Linked DNA regions of Homo sapiens. The protein of the gene in region 4 interacts with the protein of the main gene of each other region in a biochemical or structural test. Each region holds a gene or a part of one and is shown on either strand. Other genes may lie near its edges.

What was found.
Region 1: the proteins of ADGRA1 (region 4) and PDZD2 interact in a test that uses a peptide from one of them, tested with the Homo sapiens proteins (one large-scale study listed by IntAct).
Region 2: the proteins of ADGRA1 (region 4) and SIPA1L2 interact in a test that uses a peptide from one of them, tested with the Homo sapiens proteins (one large-scale study listed by IntAct).
Region 3: the proteins of ADGRA1 (region 4) and GRID2IP interact in a test that uses a peptide from one of them, tested with the Homo sapiens proteins (one large-scale study listed by IntAct).
Region 5: the proteins of ADGRA1 (region 4) and PALS2 interact in a test that uses a peptide from one of them, tested with the Homo sapiens proteins (one large-scale study listed by IntAct).
Region 6: the proteins of ADGRA1 (region 4) and SYNJ2BP interact in a test that uses a peptide from one of them, tested with the Homo sapiens proteins (one large-scale study listed by IntAct).
Region 7: the proteins of ADGRA1 (region 4) and RADIL interact in a test that uses a peptide from one of them, tested with the Homo sapiens proteins (one large-scale study listed by IntAct).

The regions. Positions count from the first base shown.
Region 1 is NC_000005.10:32,086,631-32,090,130, forward strand, and holds part of PDZD2 (PDZ domain-containing protein 2), read left to right. Parts: intron 1-500; coding exon 501-3,500.
Region 2 is NC_000001.11:232,459,134-232,462,633, forward strand, and holds part of SIPA1L2 (signal-induced proliferation-associated 1-like protein 2), read right to left. Parts: intron 2,029-3,500; coding exon 1,754-2,028; intron 1-1,753.
Region 3 is NC_000007.14:6,544,962-6,548,461, forward strand, and holds part of GRID2IP (delphilin), read right to left. Parts: intron 1-3,500.
Region 4 is NC_000010.11:133,086,646-133,090,723, reverse strand, and holds the start of ADGRA1 (adhesion G protein-coupled receptor A1), read right to left. Parts: upstream 2,801-4,078; 5' UTR 2,586-2,800; intron 2,017-2,585; 5' UTR 1,815-2,016; coding exon 1,812-1,814; intron 1-1,811.
Region 5 is NC_000007.14:24,691,573-24,694,693, reverse strand, and holds the end of PALS2 (protein PALS2), read right to left. Parts: 3' UTR 501-3,121; downstream 1-500.
Region 6 is NC_000014.9:70,407,091-70,410,590, reverse strand, and holds part of SYNJ2BP (synaptojanin-2-binding protein), read left to right. Parts: intron 1-3,500. UniProt on the Homo sapiens protein: Regulates endocytosis of activin type 2 receptor kinases through the Ral/RALBP1-dependent pathway and may be involved in suppression of activin-induced signal transduction.
Region 7 is NC_000007.14:4,877,217-4,880,716, forward strand, and holds part of RADIL (ras-associating and dilute domain-containing protein), read right to left. Parts: intron 988-3,500; 5' UTR 924-987; coding exon 389-923; intron 1-388. UniProt on the Homo sapiens protein: Downstream effector of Rap required for cell adhesion and migration of neural crest precursors during development.

The DNA.
Region 1 (3,500 bases), on a different chromosome or scaffold from region 4:
GAAGGGCCTCCATTTAGGCCACAGAACGCCGTTTTGTTGTTGTTGTTGTTGTTGTTGTTTTCTGAGACGGAGTTTCGCTCTTTTTGCCCAGGCTGCAGTGCAATGGCACATTCTCGGCTCACTGCAACCTCCACCTCCCAGGTTCAAGCAATTCTCCTGCCTCAGCCTCCCAAGTAGCTGGGATTACAGGTGCCCACCCCCATGCCCAGCTAATTTTTTTTTTTTTTTTTTTTTTTTTAGTAGAGATGGGGTTTCACCATGTTGGCCAGGCTGGTCTCGAACTCCTGACCTCAGGTGATCCACCCGCCTCCGCCTCCCAAAGTGCTGGGATTACAAGCATGCGCCACCACGCCCAGCTTTCTGAAAAAGAAAAAAATATTTGAGGTTGTTTATAATTTTCTAGTTTTTAATAATTGAGGGGCTGCTTTCTTATATTATCCCTTTTATCTCCCCTACAACCTCTCCTGTGTATGTACCTTCTGTTTACGTTCCCCACGTAGAACTGGACAGCTCCTCAGACCTCATCTCTTCCCCAGGGAAGAAGGGGGCCGCTCATCCTGACCCCAGCAAGACCTCTGTAGACACAGGGCAAGTCAGTCGGCCAGAGAATCCCAGCCAGCCTGCATCGCCCAGGGTCACCAAGTGCAAGGCCAGGTCTCCAGTCAGGCTCCCCCATGAGGGCAGCCCCTCCCCGGGGGAGAAAGCAGCGGCTCCCCCTGACTACAGCAAGACTCGATCAGCATCGGAAACCAGCACACCCCACAATACCAGGAGGGTGGCTGCCCTCAGGGGAGCGGGACCTGGAGCAGAGGGAATGACACCAGCTGGTGCTGTCCTGCCAGGAGACCCCCTCACATCCCAGGAGCAGAGACAGGGAGCTCCAGGTAACCACAGTAAGGCTCTGGAAATGACAGGAATCCATGCACCTGAAAGCTCCCAGGAGCCTTCCCTGCTGGAGGGAGCAGATTCTGTGTCCTCAAGGGCACCGCAGGCCAGCCTCTCCATGCTGCCATCCACTGACAACACCAAAGAAGCATGTGGCCATGTCTCGGGGCACTGCTGCCCAGGGGGGAGTAGAGAGAGCCCTGTGACGGACATTGACAGCTTCATCAAGGAGCTGGATGCTTCTGCAGCAAGGTCTCCGTCTTCCCAGACGGGGGACAGTGGCTCTCAGGAGGGCAGTGCTCAGGGCCACCCACCAGCCGGGGCTGGAGGTGGGAGCTCCTGCCGTGCCGAACCAGTCCCGGGGGGCCAGACCTCCTCCCCGAGGAGGGCCTGGGCTGCTGGTGCCCCCGCCTACCCACAATGGGCCTCCCAGCCTTCGGTTTTAGATTCAATTAATCCCGACAAACATTTTACTGTGAACAAAAACTTTCTGAGCAACTACTCTAGAAATTTTAGCAGTTTTCATGAAGACAGCACCTCCCTATCAGGCCTGGGTGACAGCACGGAGCCGTCTCTGTCATCCATGTATGGCGATGCTGAGGATTCTTCTTCTGACCCTGAGTCACTCACTGAAGCCCCACGAGCTTCTGCCAGGGACGGCTGGTCCCCTCCTCGTTCCCGTGTGTCTTTGCACAAGGAAGATCCTTCGGAGTCAGAAGAGGAACAGATTGAGATTTGTTCCACACGTGGCTGCCCCAATCCACCCTCGAGTCCTGCTCATCTTCCCACCCAGGCTGCCATCTGTCCTGCCTCAGCCAAAGTTCTGTCATTAAAATACAGCACTCCGAGAGAGTCGGTGGCCAGTCCCCGTGAGAAGGCCGCCTGCTTGCCAGGCTCATACACTTCAGGCCCAGACTCTTCCCAGCCATCATCACTCTTGGAGATGAGCTCTCAGGAGCATGAAACTCATGCGGACATAAGCACTTCACAGAACCACAGGCCCTCGTGTGCAGAAGAAACCACAGAAGTCACCAGCGCTAGCTCAGCCATGGAAAACAGTCCGCTGTCTAAAGTAGCCAGGCATTTTCACAGTCCGCCCATCATTCTCAGCTCCCCCAACATGGTAAATGGCTTGGAACATGACCTGCTAGATGACGAAACCCTGAATCAATACGAAACAAGCATTAATGCAGCTGCCAGTCTGTCCTCCTTCAGTGTGGATGTCCCTAAGAATGGAGAATCTGTTTTGGAAAACCTCCACATCTCTGAAAGTCAAGACCTGGATGACTTGCTACAGAAACCAAAAATGATCGCTAGGAGGCCCATCATGGCCTGGTTTAAAGAAATAAATAAACATAACCAAGGCACACATTTGAGGAGCAAAACCGAGAAGGAACAACCTCTAATGCCTGCCAGAAGTCCCGACTCCAAGATTCAGATGGTGAGTTCAAGCCAAAAAAAGGGCGTTACTGTGCCTCATAGCCCTCCTCAGCCGAAAACAAACCTGGAAAATAAGGACCTGTCTAAGAAGAGTCCGGCAGAAATGCTTCTGACTAATGGTCAGAAGGCAAAGTGTGGTCCGAAGCTGAAGAGGCTCAGCCTCAAGGGCAAGGCCAAAGTCAACTCTGAGGCCCCTGCTGCGAATGCTGTGAAGGCTGGGGGGACGGACCACAGGAAACCCTTGATCTCACCCCAGACCTCCCACAAAACACTTTCTAAGGCAGTGTCACAGCGGCTCCATGTAGCCGACCACGAGGACCCTGACAGAAACACCACAGCTGCCCCCAGGTCCCCCCAGTGTGTGCTGGAAAGCAAGCCACCTCTTGCCACCTCTGGGCCACTGAAACCCTCAGTGTCTGACACGAGCATCAGGACATTTGTCTCGCCCCTGACCTCTCCCAAGCCTGTTCCTGAGCAAGGCATGTGGAGCAGGTTCCACATGGCTGTCCTCTCTGAACCCGACAGAGGTTGCCCAACCACCCCTAAATCTCCTAAGTGTAGAGCAGAGGGCAGGGCGCCCCGTGCTGACTCCGGGCCGGTGAGTCCGGCAGCGTCTAGGAACGGCATGTCCGTGGCAGGGAACAGACAGAGTGAGCCGCGCCTGGCCAGCCATGTGGCAGCAGACACAGCCCAACCCAGGCCGACTGGCGAAAAAGGAGGCAACATAATGGCCAGCGATCGCCTCGAAAGAACAAACCAGCTGAAAATCGTGGAGATTTCTGCTGAAGCAGTGTCAGAGACTGTATGTGGTAACAAGCCAGCTGAAAGCGACAGACGGGGAGGGTGCTTGGCCCAGGGCAACTGTCAGGAGAAGAGTGAAATCAGGCTCTATCGCCAGGTCGCAGAATCATCCACAAGTCATCCATCCTCACTCCCATCTCATGCCTCCCAGGCAGAGCAGGAAATGTCACGATCATTCAGCATGGCAAAACTGGCGTCCTCCTCCTCCTCCCTTCAAACAGCCATTAGAAAGGCAGAATACTCCCAGGGAAAATCAAGCCTGATGTCAGACTCCCGAGGGGTGCCCAGAAACAGCATTCCAGGGGGCCCCTCGGGGGAGGACCATCTCTACTTCACCCCAAGGCCAGCGACCAGGACCTACTCCATGCCAGCCC
Region 2 (3,500 bases), on a different chromosome or scaffold from region 4:
CAGTGTAAGTGGCTTTTTTTCCTAAAAGGAGATCATGGTTTAGCTGATCTATCCAATATGGCAGCCACTAGCAACACGTGGCCAATTAAATGTAAATTAATTAAAAGGAAAAATTCGTTTCCTAAGTTGCACTACAGTTCATGTACGTAATAGCCACATGTGGTTTGTGGCTACTGCTCTGAACGGTACAGACACAGATCACTGTAGAAAGTGCTAATGGAGAGTGCTGGCTTAAAGGAGGAAGAAAGGAAACAGAGAAAGGAGAGAGTATGACCTAGGTTAGTAAGTCCAGAAAGTAGACCCAACAATCCTACTATCTTTGGATAATCAGAATTTATTTTTTCATATGAAAGAAATTAAAATGAATATGCTAAAGTTTTATTTATTATTATTATTTGAGATGCAGTCTCACTCTGCCACCCATGCTGGCGTACAGAGGCACGATCTCAGCTCAGTGCAGCCTCGACCTCCCAGGCTCAAGGGATCCTCCTACCTTCCCCTTCTGAGTAGCTGGGACTACAGGTGCACACTACTGCACCTGGCTAATTTTTGTATTTTTTGAAGAGATGGGGTTTTGCCATGTTGTCCAGGCTGCTCTCAAACTCCTGGGCTCAAGCGATCTGCCCACCTCGACCTCCCAAAGTGCTGGGATTACAGGTGTGAGCCATAGCGCCCAGCCCCTAAAGTTTTATTTTTCTAAATTAAATGTGTGGGGCAATTATGCTAGAAGGTTCTAAGTGCTTTACATGTGTTACTTTATTTCATCTTCATTGAAATCATAGGAGGTAGGCGATATAATAATCCCATCTTACAGAGAGTAAGTGAGACTTAGAGAGAGTGTGTGAGTTGCCCCAGGCCACACAGCAAATTCCTGGATTCCAAGCATACTTTGTCTCTCAAAAGCCAGAGCTCTTAAGGCTGCCTGTACGAACTCCATTTGGGAATGAAGATAGAGGGAAGGTGCTCTAGATACTACCACCAGTCATGCATTAACACAAGTAGTGGGCCACAGCCTCAATAAACGGCTCCTTCTTAATTAGCATTCTTTCTCCTTTTGGCCTAATATTTTATGTTGGGCATGATTATTTTCTATTAGTAATGTAATAGTATTGCTTTCTAACCCCGTTCTTATCCCAGCCCTCCACCTATCCGCCTCTGAACCTTCCAAGTCTAGCCGTTCCTTTTCATCTATTTCTCCTGACAGTTTATGATAACGCCCTGAACCAGTTCAACATCTCTCAAGCTTCAATTGAGAATGGAGTATTTACCACAGAGAGTACCTGTGCTGTTCCAACATTCTTTCATACCTACAACTATTGGTCTGTTAAATATTTTTTAAATAATCAATGGCTTCATGTTATGGGAAGAAATTCTAACTGAATAGTTAAGTATTTAATGTGCTCAAGGCTGAGCTGTGATACAGAATTATTTCCTCTTAGATATAAGAGGTCCAGGGGAACCAGGCAGGTGCTCTTCCCCTTAGTTCAGAATAGCTCAGCTTTAATGTAGTCAATGTTCCATTAAAATGCTTAGCAAATTATTTTTTATCATCTATTACATATTTTAAAGCTCCTTTTCAATTCCTCGAACGAGTGACATCCCAACAACATTGTACAAATGAGTGACATCCCAGAACACTGTACAAAGACACACTTGACTGCATTTTCTGAGGACCTTGCAGGAGCACTGAGGACAGCCACCTGCTACAGAGGCAAAGGAGGAGTGAGCATTACTTGGGCCTCCCACGCCTTACCTTCGGGGCGAGCCGTCATCATGGGGCTGGATGATGACCACCTTCACAGTCACAGAAGTACGGAGCAGGTCGATCATCTGCTCGTGGGTCAGAGTGGCCACGGCTACTTTGCAGATCTCCACGAGGCGGCTCCCTTGGCGAAGGCCAGCCTTCCAGGCAAAGCCAAAAGGTTCCACATCTGCGACAATTCCTTCAAAATTCACATGGAAGCCAAGCTGGCCCAGCCCGTTCCTCCTCAGGGTCATTTCCACAGTCTCGCAGCCTCTCGTCACTATCTAAGGGGGAAGGAGACTGTTAGAGATGCCCTTCCTGCCCAAGCTGCCATGGGGCTCTGCCAAAGGTGCACGTATGGGCCTCCATGCCAGCCCTCTCCCTTGGGCCCTCGCAGCCCAGCCTGTCTCTCTCTGCCTTTTCCTCAAACTGTCCAAGTGACAGGACAAGGACACATTTAAGTTCAGAGCTGATCACAATTAACATTTGCATCAAGTGCAAAGAAAATAACAGAAGCAAAGCAATGGTTTCATTCTTCATTCTAAGTCATATCTGTTCTTGATACAGGTGTCCTGCTTTCTTAGATGTCACTGACCCAGAGCTTGAGAGCTTCAGATGGGCTCAGATAATTCCCGTTTTTCCTTTATTAGGTAAATTGACTTGACTTTTAAGCATATAAATCCCATCGTTCTAGATGGATTTTTGCAATGGAAAACCTGTAAAGACTTTGTGGACCATTACAAGTTTCAACCAGCAAGCACTAAAAACCATGAGACAATTTATTCATCCCAAGCAAAGAAAAACACCCCAAAGCACTTGAAAGCTAACGCTTAAGAGCCCACTCTGAGGTTCAGGAAGGGCAGTGGCAGAAAGTCAGAGCTTTAGGAAAACTCTAAATGTTCTCTACGCACCAGCCCTAGGGACATACTGTGGAGTGTTCTGTCCCCTAGGGTCCTTCTCTTGAGGACAGACAACTGCCTATGCTTGCCTGAGTGGTGAGGACCACTCAGATCCATGGTGGGGGCAGGCCAGCCAGACTCCTTGGCCATCTGTTCACAAGGCAAGTGTGTAGGATGGTGCTCTGGCAGGCAGCAGACAGACCCTCTGTGCTTATGGGCTGCCTCTCCTCCACTAGGCCTGTCTCCTAGGGGCTGAGGGCAGCCCCAAGCAATGGAAGCCTCAGTGTATGTACCTTACTCAAGAGTGAGAGAGAGTCAACAGCAGTTCCACAAAAAGGAACATGAAAGAAGAATGGTGGATTGCATCCCACTTGGTACATTAAAGCACCACTAATGCAGCCCTCAAAAGCACTCACCGAGCATAGTTTACATCCAATGAAAGAAAAACATGGGCTCATTAAGTATCACCCGATGACTATGACCTCACCTATCTGTGGGAATTTCAAGTTGGGAGGTATCATACTCCTATCCCCAAAAGCCCAGAGGCAATGTATGAAGTTTCAGTTTAATGAACACTCCATTTCTATGAAACATGCTCTGACTACATAGATACCTATTTAATAAGACCTATGACAGTAAGTACAGCTGTGGGACTGGGGCTGGTTCATGTATCACCACTGTGTCTGATGTTTCCATGGTTACCACAAGTGCACACAATGCCAATCAGCTTTTCCCAGACAGGCATGACAGTTCACGACTCAGCAAAATGCGGAAAGGGGACTGCTGGTTTTAGTTAGTGATGATGTTTTAGAATATTGACGTTTCTAAAGTCATGAACTGAAGTAACTAAAACTTGA
Region 3 (3,500 bases), on a different chromosome or scaffold from region 4:
CTGTAGTCCCAGCTACTCGGGAGGCTGAGGCAGGAGAATGGTGTGAACCCGGGAGGCGGAGCTTGCAGTAAGCCGAGATCGCGCCACTGCACTCCAGCCTGGGTGACAGAGACAGACTCCATCTCAAAAGAAAAAAAAGAAAGAAAAGAAAAAGTAAAAAGTTAGCCAGATATGGTGGTGCACGCTTGTATTCCCAGCTACCAGATACTTGGGAGGCCGAGGTAGGAGGATCTCTTGTGCCCGGGAAATCAAGGCTGCAGTAAGCCATGATCACACCACTGAGCTCCAGCCTGGGTGACAGATCAAGACCCTGTCTCCATAAATAAATAAATAAAAGACAATCCTCCTTTGATCCTGAAAGCTGCTCATTCTCCTCCCTTCTGTAGTCTGGAGCCGTCTACACGTGCTGTTTCTGTACCACTGCCCTTTGCCACTGCAGTTCACTATTGCACTTGAGGCTCTCCACGACCCAGCTCTGGCGAAGAACCCCAGACAGTGACTCTCAGACCTCGATCTTCAGCCGAGAGCTCGCTCTTGAACTCTGGAACTGTATATCCACCCGCTTTCTAGATGATTCCAAAAGGGGAGGAGAAGTAGCGGGAAGCTTCGAGGGTTTCCAGTCAGAGGCCACGTTCTGTACACGTCTGAATCCTAGCACAGATGCACCATGAGTCTGTGTAACCGTCTGTCTCCCCCACCCAGGTGTGATGATCCGGGGTCTCATGCTTGTCCAGCCCCAAGCACAGCGCCTGGCACATATTAGGCACTCAGAGAATGTGGATGGGACTGAATCAAAAAGCAGCCTTGCATTGCACTTCCTGCAGGCCCCAGCTCACCACTGTTTCCCTCCCTGTGAGTGGGCCAGGCTGGCAGCACCAGCCGCCCCCTCCCCACGCACGCGCCGTGCTGGGGAAGGTTGCCAGTTTGGAAATCAAAGTCAGCAGCAACCTCAATTCAAAGGAGAACATGGCTGGCTGCAGAGATGTTTTATGTAAGAAAGAGGAAAAAATAGTTCCTCCCTCCTGGGGCCCGTGCTACAGTGCGGTTTCGGTGTCAGTTATTACCCAGATGTTCTCAGCCTACATCTAAGCATGAGGTATCATCACGGGACACTAATGGATTTTCTATTAAATATCAGCCACTTCAAGGAGGAAAAACTGGGGCAGGCAGAAAGCGCAGGCGAGAACTGGAGGGCTGGTGATTGAAAACCAACCAGTCTGGCGCAGTGGCTCATGCCTGTAATCCCAGCACTTTGGAAGGCAGAGGCAGGTGGATCACCTGAGGTCAGGAGTTTGCGACTAGCTTGACCAACATGGTGAAACCCCATCTCTACTTGAACTCCTGACCTCAGGTGACCTGCCTGCCTCGGCCTCCCAAAGTGCTGGGATTACAGGTGTGAGCCACCGTGCCCAGCCAAGCCACCAAGCCTGGCCTGTCTCTACTAAAAAAAATACAAAATTAGCCGGGCGTGGTGGTACATGCCTGTAATCCCAGCTTCTTGGGAGGCTGAGGCAGGAGAATTGCTTGAACCCAGGAGGCGGAGGTTGCAGTGAGCCAAGATCACGCCATTGCACTCCAGCCTGGGCAACAAGAGCGAAACTCTGTCTCAAAAAAAAAAAAAAAAAGATAGAAAACCAACTGGGCTCCACGGAGGCCCTTCATCTTCCAGAGGAAGTCATTTTTGGAGATTCACTCTCAGCTTTTGTGGGTGCCCAGCGAGCCCTAACCAAAATCCTCCACTTCCCCGTTCCTCCTTGCCAGAAAACACACTGCAGCTGGCCTGGGCAGCCTGTCGGATTCTACCCTCAGCGGGTTGCTGCCCAGCCCTGCTCCTGGGCAGGTCTTCTCTTGCATCCTGCCCTGTTTGGAGCTCTGAACGTGCCCCCTTCCAACTCTGCAGGGATTAGATGGAGTCTGGGATAGACCTTTGGCTCCATGGCAGGTGATCTGGGATTGTAGCAGGCATTACTCGCACTCACCAATATTTCTAGGTCTTCCCTCTTTCCTGGACACACATTAGACTACATTTCCCAGCATCCTTAGGGAGGAGCAGTGTACCTAGTTCTGCCCAATGAGCATTGAGGACAGGTGCTGTTCTAAGAGGAGATGCACAATTTTCCAAGCTCTCTTCCTCTTCCATAGGGAACCCTGAAGCTTCACATAGAGATGGAGGAGTCTGAAATGCTGAGACCTCGTATGGACATCAAGCCACCCTAGAAAGTCTACTGACCCCCTAGAGGACTCTGTGGGTGAAAAGTAAACTTCTGTAGTGCAAACGCACTAAGTTGTTGATTTTGGGTCAGGCACAGTGGCTCACACCTATAATCCCAGCACTTTGGGAGGCTGAGGCAGGAGAATTGCTTGAGGCCAGGAGTTTGAGACTAGCCTGGGCAACATAGCAAGACCTCATCTCCCCAGTCTTTTTTTTTTTTCTTAATCAGCCAGGTGTGGTGGTGCACACCTGTGGTCCCAGCTACTAGAGAGGCTGAGGCAGGAGGATCACTTGAGCCCAGGAGTTGGAGGCTGTAGTGAGCTATGATTGTACCACTGCACTCCAATCTGGGCAACAGAGCTAGACCCTGTCTCAAAAACAACAACAATAAAAAATGTTGGGTTTGTTTGTTATAGCAGCAGAGCCTGTTGTGGGTACAGGAAGAAAGTCACAGCTTTGGAAGATCTGGACTTTGGTGATGTAGGGAAGCTGGAGTTGAGTCCTGTGTGTATGCGAGTGTGTGTATCTGGCCACAGAGGCTGGTCTACTCAGGGTCAGAAAAGCCCATTCAGGGGATCAGGCTAGGGTACATGATGGAGGAGACACTCCTGAGGGGGTTAATTTGGAAGGGGTTAGGACTGGACCAAGCTTGGGCACTGAAGGAGGCCAGAGTGGGTGGGGACCTGATGCCTGGGCAGTGGGCTGGGAGGCATTTCTGCAATAGTCAAACTCCGACAAAGTTTCCAGGCTCCCTGACCTCCCAAACCCCATGGCCAAGTGCTGCTGGGGCAGAACTGAGCAGATTCCCTTCCACGGAGGAAAAGTCTGTGAGCTTGATAACACAACAGGGTGACTATAGCCAATAATAACTTAATTGTCCATTTTAAAATAACTTAGGCCAGGTGCAGTAGCTCACACCTGTAATTCCAGCACTTTTGGAAGGCCGAGGTAGGCAGATCTCCTGAGGTCAGGAGTTCAAGACCAGCCTGGACAACATAGTGAAACCGTGTCTCTACTATAAATACAAAAATTAGCCAGGCATGGTGGTGGGGGCCTGTAATCCCAGCTCCTTGGGAGGCTGAGCCAGGAGAATTGCTTAAACCCGGGAGGCGGAGGTTGCAGTGAGCCGAGATCGTACCACTGTATTCCCTGGGCAACAGAGCGAGACTCTGGCTCCAAAAAAAATAAATACAAACTTAAACGGTGTAGATGGATTGTTTATAACTCAAAAGATAAATGCTTGAGGGGATGGGTACCCCATTCTCCATGACATGCTTATTTCACATTG
Region 4 (4,078 bases):
GAGCCCCCCAGAGCACAGCAGTGGGGCAGGCAGAGTCAGGGCCACCCTGCCCTGGCCACGGCCTCCAGGCTTCCTTCTCAAGACCCCATGGCCATGGGGTGAGCCTGCCCAGGTATCTACGCTGTGAACTTGGAGACACGTGCTGTGAATTACGCTGTCACACTACGCTGTGAACTTGGAGACACATGCAGAAAAATGCTGCACCAGACTGATGCAGCACGGGAGGGCAACTCCTCACACTTTCAGAGATTTTCTCAGGTGCAAATGTTACTTGTTGTGAATAAAAACAGTGAGCTGCTGAAATGCCACACTCTCCAGGCAGATCGAGCTCAGCAGGCTTTCACAGTCTTGGGTGAGCAGGAGCTCTGGGCTGCCAGGCCGGCTGGGACCGGGTGGCCCCGGGCCGAGGAGGTGGTAGCAGGAAGCTCCACCAGGAGCCAGGAGCTGAGAGGAGAGTGCACGAACAGGCTCAGCCTGCGAGGGGTGGTGCCCTTCTTGGATTGGGGAGGCCCCCGCACAGTTGTTCGCAGAAGGGCCAAGGGTTAGAGAGGAGGAGGCGAGGAAGGGGATGAGAGGGACCCCCGGGCTGCGGCAGCACCCCCACCTTCAGAAGCCCTTCTCCGTTCACTGTCCTCTGTCAATGACAGTTTTCCATTTTGCAAATAAGGGTCTCAATTTGAGGCTGAAAAGCCACAGATCCTGCCAACTGGGAGGCCTGGGGCTGCGCTGGGTGTGGTACCTGCGGGGCAACAGCGATGGTTCCTGAGGCTGGTGGGAGCCTGGGGGCAGGCAGGAGCCCTGGGGCTGGCCTGCTGCCCCCTGAGGTGCTGCTGGTGCTGGAGACGCAACCTTGTCAGGTGTCTGAAAGGTAAGTGCGGAGACCTCAGCCAGCCTCAGAGGTGAAGCAGCCACTGGAAGACGATACTGAATGTTGGCAAAGGCATCTCTCTTGCTTGGACATTTCGAACGGAACAAGAAGAAAATGAGCAAGTGACTCAGACCGATGGCTCCTTATGCAGCGAACACTGGGTCTGCTCCGAAGCACGCCAGCCGGCGTCTGTGGCGGCCGCACATTCTAGAGGCCATTGGCATTCTCTGCACGTGCCCTGGGTCCTCACCGCCTGTCAGCTGTCCCTTACCAGCACACACAATGCATTGTTCACTCAGCTGTCAGCCCTTCCGGAACCCAGACATTCAGCAACTGCAGCAAAAGCTTGCTGGTGCCTCAGGGAGGGACCCACGATGGGCTCGGCTAGCCGATCCAGCCAGCTGCCAGCCACGAGCCCCTTCCCGCTGAAACACCCTTCCCGTGCCTGCCGTGTGCGCGGCCGCCTTCTCTCCGCCACAGCCTCCACTGCTGAAGCCCACCTACGTCTGTCCGCACTGCCTTTCATCAACTTTCTAATGGGAAGGGGCCGGCAGGGTGGCGTGGAGGAGGCCGGTGACCAGGGTGGAGGGGCTTGGGGTGGCAGGGACCCCAGCCCAGGCACAGACCAGGTTTTCACAGGGCACGGATGCCAGCTTTGCGGGAGGGACGTCGCCTCCATTGATTAAATGATTCCACATTGCCATATGCCTGCAACTCATTAGTATGATCAGCACCCAGCACGCGGGGAGCAGAGGTGCCCAGACACGCGGCCTGTCCCCGGCCCCCACTCCACAGAGCCTCCCACCCCGGCACTGAGCCCGGAAGCCCGGTCACCAGCTCGCCATTCCACAACTTTTCCAGCCTGGGAGTCCCCATACGGGTGGCCGCCCCCCCGCAGCGGCCTAGCCCCCAGCTGCAGGACCCCCGGGACCCCCGTACTCACCATGAGCGCTGCAAAGTTGCGGAAGCGTGAGCGCCGCTGGAGGAGGCGTCCAGGGGGAGGCGATCAGGTGGCGCCCTGCTCCCCGCCAGCCTCCATGGCCTCTGGAAGGTCAAAGTCCCAGACGGCGGCCAGGAGGTCGCGCTCCCGGGCCCCTGGCCTCAGGGTGACCGCGGCGGGGCGGGCGCAGTCCGGGAGCTGCTCCCATCTGTGAAGACAGCGGCGGTCAGCGGGGCGGGCGGAGGGTCCCCGCGGAGGGCAGCTCGCAGCCCCGACCCCGCCAGGGAGCAGCCGCGGCCCCTGTCGCTCCCTCCCCTCCGCGGGCGGCCTGGGGGCTGCGCCTGGGGCTGGCGGAGGCGGTGCCGGTGGGGACCGGTGGGGGGCTCGGACCGAACGCGCCAGCGGCAGATGCGTCTCCTTCTCCATATTTAAAAATCAATCTGCGCCCCACTCCCGGCTCCGGAGCCAAACTCAACCATCTCGGGCTGCACAAAGCCAGAGGCGCGCCGGGGGGTTTGCACCGGGAACCGGCACCGAGTGACCCGCCCGCCCCAGCCCGGCCGCGGCGCCTGCTCTGCCTGGATGTGGCTCGAGCTCCGGGCCGGGCGCGCGGGGCGGGGGCCCTGGATTATCCGTGGCGCCTCCCGCCCCAGCGGAGCCGAAAGTTACTCGGAGCTGCTTTCCTCGCGGCCAGTGTCACCTCGGGGCGCGAGCTTTTCTGCCGAGCCGCGGCCCCGCGCGTCCCTCCCGCCGCCCAGACCCGCGCGTCCTTCCCACCTGCTGTGGCCGAAGCGGCTGCCGGGGCGGCCGGGCCGCGCTCCCGGAGACAGACGCGCTGCGCTCCCCCCGCCGGGGACCCGCTCTCCATTCGCGAGGGCAGCGGCCGAGCTGGGACCGAGTTATCAACAGATTGCGGGGCTGCGGCGCCGGCCGGTGAGTCACAGCCCCGCGCACGAGCGGCCCAGCCCGGCCAGCAGCGCCGCCGCCTCTGCGCGCACCTCCCGCGGCGACAGCGGGGACCCGGGGCCGGAGGCAGGCGCGTAACCATGGGGACCGGGGCGGGCGATGGCGGCGGGCGGGCTCCTGCCGCAGGGTGGGGATGGCTCTTCCAGCCGGGCGGCCGCCGTCACACTGCAGAGCGTATTTAAAGAGACACCTCGCTCCGCGCTCGCTCCCCAGCACCAGACCCTCGCCCGAAAACGCCGCCGGGCGGACTGCACGACCCTGTGTTATTCCCAAAGACAATCTCCATCCGTGGAGAAGCTGCAGGAACAGAAATATACACAAGAAAATGGATTTGGAAGGAATTTTCCATCCTTTATTTAACATTCTCAAGTCCAGATATGCCAGAACCGAGGTGCACCTGTCGTGAACCCGTCTGAGTGTGAGTCAGCAGGGCAGCCGCAGCCGGTGTAGACAGACAGGGCCTGTGGCTGTGCAGAAAGCGTCCCTGTCCCCCTACCCCAACCCTCCTGCATCCTGGGCCACAGAGCTGGGCATCCAGAGCCAAGGCGAGTGTGGAGGCCAGGGTGCCAGGGGCGGCGCAGCCCAGCCTCCCACCCGCAGCGAGGTTTGGGCTCTGCACACATCCCACAGGTCCCTATCCTGCCCCAAGGGGCCTCCTACCCGACAAGGTGGGTCCAAGTCCACTCCAGTTTTCGTCACAAACTCCGTTTTCTGGGGCACGTGCTGGCCTGGTGGCAGCCTCAGCAAGAGTCTCAGGAACTGCCCTGGGGGACTCCACACCCCTCCACCTGTTCCCCCTTTGGCCCTGGGTGACCCCACACCCCTCCACCTGTTCCCCCTTTGGCCCTGGGTGACCCCACACCCCTCCACCTGTTCCCTCCTTGGCCTCCACCCTTGCATGGCTACTTCTGCCCCAGGTTCTGTGACACTGGCGCCTGTTCAGGGGGTCCCCAGGCCCTGCTGCCATGGATTTTGAGGGGCCTGAAGGATGTACTATTGGGAGGTTGTCATGAAGACTCACAGAGGCAGAATTAGATGCAGGGGTGACAGCGTTCCGCTTCCCCGGCCTCTCATTATGGGGCTTTTGAGCGGGATGTGCTCAGGGCCCCACTGCCCCATCTAGCTGGTGTTCCCAGAGCCCCTCTGTGGGGACACTGTGCTGGTCCCTGAACTCCAGCTGAGGGACACAGGGTCCAGGCAGGCGACGGTCTAGTTCCCAGCTGGAGACGCTCTAGGCACCCCAGGACCTGGCCGCCCTGACTCCCTGGACACCGTTCCCTTGGAGCCTCGGAGCCCCCCCTGGT
Region 5 (3,121 bases), on a different chromosome or scaffold from region 4:
AACCAAATACTGCATGTTCTCACTTCTAAGTGGGAGCTAAATGATAGTATCTTATAAACACAAAGAAGGAAACAACAGACACTGGGGTCTACTGGAGTGGGGGGTGGGAGGAGGGGGAGGAGCAGAAGAGATAACTATTGGGTACCAGGTTCAGTATCTGGATGATGAAATAATATGTACAATAAACCCCTGTGACACGTGTTTACCTATGTAACAAAACCTTCACATGTGCCCCCAAACCTAAAAGTTAAAAAATGCAAACAGTTAAAAAAAATTATCAACGCTAATCAGATATCCTCCATTATTATCTCTAAACCTTAGTTCTACCTATAAATGAAACACTTTTTTCCAATAGTAAATATTTCTTTATATATACAAAAATATTTTACCAGGAGTATATAATCTCACAGATTAGACATTTCAATAATTTTTGTTTTGGACAGCACATGGAAATATGTGAAAAGATTTATAGGGACAGTTTCTGAAAAATCAATACTTAATTGTACCACAGGAAAATTTTATTTATACAACAGCAATAATGTTTCTTTTATACAGAAACTAATAATACAATTACCTGGAAAGCAGTAGCAATTAATTTTTCTTTTTAAACTTCTTAATCAGAAACTTTAAGCAGCTTGTTCAGCTTTGATTTTCAGATTGCTAACAAGCATTCTGCCCTCCATTTTTTTTTTTAAAGATTCTCTTCTACAGTTACTTCAAAAACTAGAGGTTTAAAAAAGCATGCGTCTTGTGTTCAAATAAAAGACTTACCAAAACGAACTGGCGTGGGGGGAAAAGGAAGAATAAAAAATTCCCACAGCAAGGTTTTCACATCAAATACTCACCATAGGCTCCAACAGAGCTCAACATAACATGGAGAAATTGCACTTGTTGCTGAATACTAGTGCTCATTCTTCTACAACAGAGTCCAACATATCACTTCTTTAAAAAAAAATCAGTGTTACTGAAGAGACAGGAGCCAGTCAGCAGTTCTTTTTAAAAGAGAATACAGAGACATAAGAAATATTTTTATTGTATTTCAAATACAGATGTAGCTGAGCTATGCCTGAAATCTGGTTCTACCTGAAAAGATGGAGGCATTTCTCATTTAGACCATGTTTACCAGGACAAGCTTTATGTCTTTAAAGCAATGTTACTTACACTACTGTCCACCTCTCCTATTTAAGAATAAGATGAAAACCACACATTTTAACTGGTAATGACTTCTGGTTTAATGTTGGTAATTTACAGCTGATGAGTTTTTACATCAGATGAGTATGCTTTTTTCCTGTTTTAGTTAATTAGGCTTCCTCCAAGCTCCTAGGCTACTTTGATAGGAGGAGAGCCAAATTTCATATATGACCTGTCATATTTATGTATGTTCCTTCCCCTGGCTTGCTGTTGGCTGAAGTACAATAAAGACATCTATTTCCAATTTTAAGACCTTTTTGGCTTCTGTGGTAGCAACACCACCTATTTCATAAGATTCAAAGACAGTTGCTTTACAAGCAGTAAATCACTCAATCTTCTGATTGGTGGCATTTACCTTAACTATAGATGTGTTCATTCCATTTACACTGGAGATTAGAAAACAGTAAGAGCCAGTAGGAGGGGAAAAAAAGGAAGAGAACTATCCCTTCTGATCGACTTTTGTATGTGGAGATAAGTCAAATTTATCACACCATTGCATTATCAGCCAATGACTGAGAAGCAATTACAAAGTAATAACTAAAGTGGATTAATATCTGGATTTTGAGGTTCACAAACTAAGACCTCACTGTGAATGTTTCTTTCTATAAAGAAATAGATGCCTTTTTAAATTAATGGTATGGGTAAAACAGTAGGGCTGCAGTGATTTCAGGTATGCAGTGATTTCAGGTATAAGGATAAAGTAGGACAGTTTTCGGGGGCAAAGATCAGAGTCTTCTGGTGTAACCGAGTACTGGATTGCTTGCTTACATTTTGTTTGATTTGTGAGTGGTCTGGTTGGCAGCAAGGATTTGCTAAGGGTTTGGATTTAGTATGGGATTATAAGATAAAAGGGACTTTCTGATTAGGACTAAGAGAGCAGAACAGACCTTCCACCAGCTGAAACTGTATCTTTGGGGCTATTTTAAAACTGGAAGAATTCCTGAAAAGTATTCACCATTCACTACATTACTTCAGAAACAGGTACACTTTAAAATAACTAAAAGAGAACAGATAAAGTAGCCTAATAAGGATTTTTCAGTTCACCATATCACAGCTACCACATCAGAGTTACAAATTACAAATCAGAATTTAAGGCGAAGACAAATATTAACTTAGCCTTACTTAACAAGTAGAATAGTAATGATAAAGGGAAATATAAATTTCATCGAAGATCACACAGTCAGAAGTCAGAATTAGGATCTTGGCCAGTACCCTGTCTTTACTTTTATCACTAGAGAATATTTTTTAAAAAGTACTGCAGTGTATTGCCAAAGTGGTGTGAACCATGCTTACTTTAGAAATGAGATATCATCATTCTTTCACTGTTTAGTATATTAAGGACTCATGTTCGAATCTCTGCATTTTTCAAAAACTATTCCAAGAACACAGAAGCTAGCATGATGAATTATGGGAAATATTTTAAAAAGAATATAAATTGCAAAACGTTAGAACAAAAATGCAATTTAAAAATAACCTTACCTTAAAAAAATTATAGAACTGTCATCTTCCTCAGGTATACAATATATGCTTGCATAAAAACTGACAAGATGCTCAATTATTAGTCAAATGTATTCTTAAATTTTGTGAGTATTCATTTGTACTATATACAATAATCCCATTATTTAAAAGAATGAATTTCTCCCAAAAATTCCAAATACATTACAGATGTTATTACATGAATTCTCACAGCAAACCTCTTGAAATAAGACAAGGGCAGGTATCATAATCTCAGCCTGAATCATATTAAAGATTCATTCAAAAGTTTAAATAAGAATTTCCAAAGGGGTTTCCATCCAGAACCCTGCCCTTTTTCCCTAAGAAAATTAAATTTATTATAATAATGACTACTTTCTGAGTTTCTCATATATTTTTCAGAAAGATTATCAGCTTCAAGGTGGAACCAGAGCGTTTTAAAACAATCTAAAAAAAG
Region 6 (3,500 bases), on a different chromosome or scaffold from region 4:
TATGGATAGTGCTGCAGTGAACACATGCATGCATGTGTCTTTAATGTTTTTTTAATGCTTTGTCTAGTGCATGACACACAGTGGTCAGTAAGTGTTCATTAAATGACTGAGCAAACTGATAGATATCATAATAATATAATGGAATGTTTTTATATTTATTTATTTATGACATAGGGTCTTACTTTGTCACCGAGGCTGGAGTGCAGTGGCACGATCTTGGCTCACTGCAGCCTTGACCTCCTGAGTACAAGTGATCCTCTTGTCTCAGCCCCTCAAGTAGCTGGGACTACAGGTGTGTGTCACCACACCTGATTAATGTTTTTATTAGCCATATTTTTCATAGAGACGGGGTTTCACCATGTTGCCCAGGCTGGTCTCCAACTCCTGAGCTCAAGTTATTCACCCACCTCGGCCTCCTAAAGTGCTGGGATTACAGGCGTGAGCCACCACACCCAATGTACTTATTTATTTTTGAGACAGGGTCTTGCTCTGTCCCCCAGTCTGGAGTACAGTGGCACTATGACAGTTCACTGCAGCCTCGACCTCTTGGGCTCAGGTGGTCCTCCTGCCTCAGCTTCCTGAGTAGCTGGGACTACAGACATGCACCACCACACTTGACTAATTTTTTTTTTTTTTAATTATTTGTAGAGACGAGATCTCACTATGTTGCCCAGTCATGCCTTGGACTCCTGGGCTCAAGTGATCCTCCACCTCAGCCTCCCACAGTGCTGCGATTCCAGGCATGAGCCACTGTGCCTGCCATAATGGGATGTTTTAAATAAAGAGAAGCAGTAACATGATCTGTTTCAGCTTTCAAAAAGTGGTAAACATGGTTCTTCACTAAATACAATTTGAGAAAGAGAGAATGAGGATGGACACATTGTATTATGATGGATAGGAAACTGGCTAAGATATCAGAAACAAGGAGAAGGAGTAGATGGAACACCTCTTGGAGAGAGTCAGGTAAATGGAACAGTTCTCTAAAGATTGCTTCAAGGATCAGTATTAAGATCTTTTCAAAACAATACTAAAGAAAAACTGTACAGTAAAATATCTAGGAATTACTTTGGGGAAATAGAAAGGCAAGCTGATAGATGTTCAACTGCAGAAACATTTTGCGAAGCCATGTGACTAGCCAGAAAAGTGGTCAATGATTACATGTGATAAGTACACAATTATTTATTGAGGGAAAAATAGCCAAACTATACTTAGATGATAGGGTCAGAACTGCTGGTTTCAGAAGACTGAAAAGTAAAGTAAAACTATTTTTTAAAATTTATTTAGCATTTATTATGTGCCTACACTATGATTAGGAATCATGGACACTAGAATAAAGAATAAGAAATGATCCCCATTTTTAAGAATTTTGCAGTTCAAGCCAGGCATTGTGGCTCTTGCCTGTAATCCGAGCACTTTGGGAGATCAAGGAGGAGGACTGCTTGAGGCCAGAAGTTCAAGACCAGCCTGGGCAACATAGCAAGACTCCCATCTCTGCCAACAAAACAAAGCAAAACAAAACAAAACATTAGCTGTGTTTGGTGGTGCATGCTTGTAGTCCTAGCTACTTGGGAGGCTGAAGTGGAAGAATTGCTTGAGCCCAGGAGTTCGAGGTTGTTGTAGTCCTAGCTACTTGGGAGGCTGAGGCAGGAGAATTGCTTGAACCTAGGAGGTGAAGGTTGCAGTGACCTGAGATCGTACCACTGCATTCCAGCCTGGGCGATACAGCGAGACTCAGTCTCAAAAAAGAAAAAGTGCCAGAATGCTTGAGTTCAAATCCTTACTCTATCACTCACTCACTGTGTGACCTTGTGCAAGTCACCTCACTTCTATCTGCCCCAGTTTCCTCAGCTATAATATGAGAGTATTATTAGAATCTACTTATAGAGTTGTGAGGATTCAATGATTTTTTTTTTTTTTGAGACGGAGTTTTGTTCTTGTTGCCCAGGCTGGAGTGCAGTGGCGCAGTCTCAGCACACTGCAACCTCTGCCTCCCGGGTTCAAGCGATTCTCCCGCCTCAGCCTCCCAAGTAGCTGGGATTACAGGCGCCCGCTACCACACCTGGCTAATTTTTCTGTATTTTTAGTAGAGATGGGGTTTCACCATGTTGGCCAGGCTGGTTTCTAACTCCTGATCTCAGGTGATCCACCCATCTCGGCCTCCCAAAGTGTTGGGATTACAGGTATAAGCCACCACGCCTGTCCGATTTTTGTTTTATAAATAATTTGTAGTGACGATTCTGTACTGTCTTAAGCACTTTACCACAAAACAACTCATTTAATTCATTGAAGTGCTTTAAGGATACTGCTATGTGGGGAGTAGACTTTATGGGGCAAGAATTGAGTCATCTAGGAAGGGTAGGGTAAGCTGTGTCAGTAATTTCAGGGATATGGGGCTTCTGTTTCTCTTTTTCCCTCCTTTTATGCCTTAGTTTATAAAAAAACCCTATTACTGCAATAGTCCTTCCCCCTCCTCCAAAAAAAAAAAAAACCTGTTAGAAGCTCCCAGAAACATTTTTAACCTTGTGAGATTTCCCTAGAACTGGAAATGTTAGAAATTCCTGACCTAGGTGTAATTTTCAATTCCAATAATAGTCAATTGACACCAGTTGGGCTTTGTGTATGTACTAGGTACTATATTGGCACAGGAGGTACAAAAATGAATATAAGCTAATTACATTGTCTTCTAGGAACGAATATTGCAATAGGGTAATGAGACAATTAAACAAGTAATTTCATGTTTTCAGGCAAAGGGAAGAAGACATCCAAAGTCACGGAGATAAGCAGTAGCTGTGGGCGGGGATGATAGGGTGAAAAGCGATAGCAAATATTAAATTTTGTTTACTGTATAATGCAAAGTAGAGAATGTCCAAAGATGGCTAGAAAGGTAGATTATGGTGATTTTGAGTTTAAACTTCATCTTCTATGTTTTTTTTTTTACTTTGATTTTATCTTGGGGATATACTTAGAATTTATTTAAAAATCATTTTATCATATTTGCATAGGAAATAGTAGAAAAAGTCTACTGTAAGGAGGATACTATAACAAATTTTTTTTTTGCTTAATTAACACAAAATTGGTGCTTTGAGAAACTTTAGCCTTTTATTATTGACTAAGTTGGTGCAGAAGTAATTGTGGTTTTTGCCATTTTTTTTTTTTTTTTTGAGACGGAGTCTCGCTCTGTTGCCCAGGCTGGAGTGCAGTGGCACAATCTCGGCTCACTGCAAGCTCCGCCTCCCAGGAGATCACGCCATTCTCCTGCCTCAGCCTCCCAAGTAGCTGGGACTACAGGCGCCTGCCACTATGCCTGGCTAATTTTTTGTATTTTTAGTAGAGACATGGTTTCACCATGTTAGTCAGGATGGTTGTGATCTTCTGACTTCATGATCCACCTGCCTCGGCCTCCCAAAGTGCTAGGAGTACAGGTGTGAGCCACCGCACCTGGCCGGTTTTTGCCATTTTTTATAGCAAAAACTGCAATTACTTTTGCACCAACCTAATAA
Region 7 (3,500 bases), on a different chromosome or scaffold from region 4:
AGGATCGCTTGAGGGCAGGAGGTCAAGACTATCCTGGGTATCACAGCGAGACTCCTGTCTCTACAAAAAGTAAAAAATTAGCTGGGTGTGGTGGTGCACCTATAGTCCTAGCTACTCAGGAGGCTGAGGTGGGAGGATCGCTTGAGCCCAGGAGGCTGCAGTGAGCTGTGGTTGCACCACTGCACTCCAGCCTGGGTGACAGAGCAAGACCCTGTCTCAGAGAACAAAAGAGGAAGGCTTCAAACATCCAGGACACGGGCTCCGACTGCCTCCTGCAGAGCGAGCCCGCCCCACGCATGTCCCCTGCACCACTCCTTCTCCGCCTACCTCGGCTGGCCTTCTCAGCGCTCAGACCCACGGCTCTTCCTGAACCTGTGGCCCCCCTCACCTGCCGTGATGGTGTCCACCTCCTTGGCTGCCAGCTCCTCCACGTCCGACCTCTTCCTCAGCTCAAACCTCCGGGATAAACCTTCTCGGGGTTTCCATAATTCCTGGATCAAGAGGGGCTTCTCACTGTCCCCAAACACCCGAAAGCACCGGGCCTGCCACCGCTGCCCAGCATCGCCGGCTTGGCCCACCACGTCACACAGCACGTACTGGCCGGCCTGCCTGGGGTCCAGGGCGTACCGCTCCAGCGCCTCCTTCACCAGCTCACGGGCGCTGGAGGTGCCGGTGGCCAGGACGCTCTTGTAGTGGGTTCCTGTGCAGACACTGTCCCCAAACACCTTCAGGACACCAGGGGCCGACAGCTGGGTGGAGAGCTCGGCGGGGTCATCGCTGGCGCCCAGGCTGGAGAAGGTGGAGTCCAGGTCCCGGTACTTGTAGCTCAGCGTCCGGGACAGCATGCTGGACAACAGCTGGCTCTGCCGCTTCAGTTTGCTCTTGGTGGGCGGGGACATGATGAAGTGCGTCCCATAAAACATGGTGGGTGAGGCTTCATGGATGAGGACTGTGGGCTTCAGCCAAAGGATGTGGGGAGGCCGTGACCTGGGTGAAAAAGTGAGAGAGGTTAGCGCCAACCATCGTGACCACCAAGAGCAAATGAGGCCACAGGCGGTGACTCCTGCCCGTCATCCCAGCGCTTTAGAAGGCCAAGGTGGGAGGACGGCTTGAGCCCGGGAGTTCCAGACCAGCCTGGGAAACATAGTAAGGCCCCGGCTCTACAAAAAATTTAAAAATTAGCCAGGCATGGTGGTGTGCACTGTACCCACTGCTCTGAAGGCTGAGGCTGGAGGATGGCTTGAGCCCAGGAGTTCAAGATTGCAGTGAGCTATGATAGTGCCACGGCCCTCCAGCCCGGGCAGCAGAGCAAGACCCCATCTCAAAATCTAATGGACATAACAGGCCGTGGGCATCCTGGCCCCGCAGACCTGACACCAGAGCACCTGAGCAGAGGATGTGGCTGGAGCCTGCAGGGCCACCAGAGACCGAGAGGACTAAACGGGCTGGAGCGCCCTTCAAGGAAAGCCATTACTGGGAAACACAATGAGGTCGCCTAAGTAAGACACGCTCCGCTGCAGGGCTTGGATTTCTGGAAAGTGCTGGGCGCAGCGCCCGTGTGCAGTGAGCATCAAGGAGCGCCCCACCCGGAGCCGGCCCCAGCACCATCACAGCCACAGAAGAGCAGCGGGCAGCCCAAGGGCAAAGCTTCGCCTCTCCGTAAACCTCGTGTCTCCTACCCCACAGGCTGCGACGTGGGAAATGGGTCACAAACACAGTGCAACCAGGAAAACAGGCGAATCGCAGCCACGTTGGCAGAATAGACCATCAGACATTCCAGACACAAACCCCCAGAATCTACCCCTCAGGGCAAGAGACCCGTCCTGGCTTGAAGGAGATACTCCCTGGGATGGCAGCACTGAGTGGCCTCGCAAGCACGGCGGGCACAAAGGGCCCCTCTCGAGCCGGTGCAGGCATGGCCGGAATGCAGGCGTCCCGCCCACCACAGGCCGCGGGTGCCCGGCGCTCCAGGCCACAGAGATGCAGTCTCCTGGGGAAACGGGAAAACAGCCTGGGACGCGTTGGCGTGTCATACAATCACACTTCTAATGTCCGTAGCGTGCCCAGGGCCAGGAGTTCCAGATGGTTTCTCAGTCTCCCTCCAGAACCTCTGTGGGGGCAGGAGGGCAGAGAAAAAGGAAGGCAGGTCTCCGATTTGGAAAAGGTGAGGCTGGACTGCAAGGCAGGAAAATACTGGAAAACTGCGCACACATCTCCCCATTACTGTACCCCACTTCCGTGCTCATGTTCTCACCAAAGACAAAGGTGGCAGACGAGTGAGCCAGGAGGAAAGCCTATTTTCTGGAAAGCTCTGGAAAGAGTGGTCCAGGTCCCAGTGAACACAGCACGGGTCGCCTGCCACTGCGACCGGGGTCAGTACTAAACACCGCAGCAGCCAACTGTCACTGTCCAGGCTTGACTCACTCGTCACGCTGCGGGCGCTGCAAAAGGCTTCTGGAAAGGACGGTGGCTGCCTAGGGCCACAGAAAGCAACCAGGGAACCCCTCCAAAGAAAAGGAGCCACACTGTCCCTTAGGAAACTAAACAGTGGAACCGCCCCAGCCTCCAAAGCTGACACTGCGAACTGGCCTCTTTCTAATATCACCGGGGCGTGGGTCATCTTCTCTGGAGCCTCTCACTGCCCGCCAGAGCTGTCATGGGTGAGTCCTGAAATCAGACCACCACTCGCTTCCTCCAGAACCAGCCCAGGTCAGCCAGCAGCTGTGCTTTCTCCGAGGACCTTGAACTCTTCAGAAATACTTCCGACAGCTTCGCACACCAGAGACTGGGTTCCCAACGCGGACGTCTGCCCTGCGGGGTGGGTGGCTGGCCCTTCTCCTGTTCCTATAGCCCACTGCGGACACTTCACCACGGCAAAGGCTTTCGCTGTGCCTGGCTTTCTGAAGAGGTGAATTTGCTGTAACAGGTCACGGAGTTCCCAGTACAGGTCATAAGCAGATGGAGCCTTGAGGTTCCATCGAGCCAGGCCATAAAGGAGTAAAGGAGCAAAGCCTTTGTTTCTCTTCCTCTGAGGAAGGTGCAACGAGTGGCCTTGTCAAATCCTAAGAAGCTCAGAGCCGGCCGCAGCTTCCCCCACGGACTCATCAAAGGCCTCGGTTTCATTTACAACAAAAGCATTTTCAGACAGTGCTCACATCACAAACGTGCGGCCTGGCCTGTGCACACCACACCAGCGGCTTCCAATCGCCCTCTAGTCTGACCTCAGTCTCCTGTGGTCAGTTTTCAAAGTGAGTACTTGGAATCACAGAACAAAACCCCTCAAAGAGCCTCTCCAGCCGGCACTTATTAACCATCCATGAGAGCTGCACAACCCTGCTCCAAAGCACCTCTCCAGATGCCCCAGGCTTAGAAGCCTCCAGGCAGCACACACTGGCAGAGGGTCGGCCACCACCTTTTCATAGTGCTCATTTCCAACGGGTTCCCCAGGGTGCAAAGGCAAAGTGCAGGTGGTGGATGGTACAGCCTCTGCCACCAGGCAG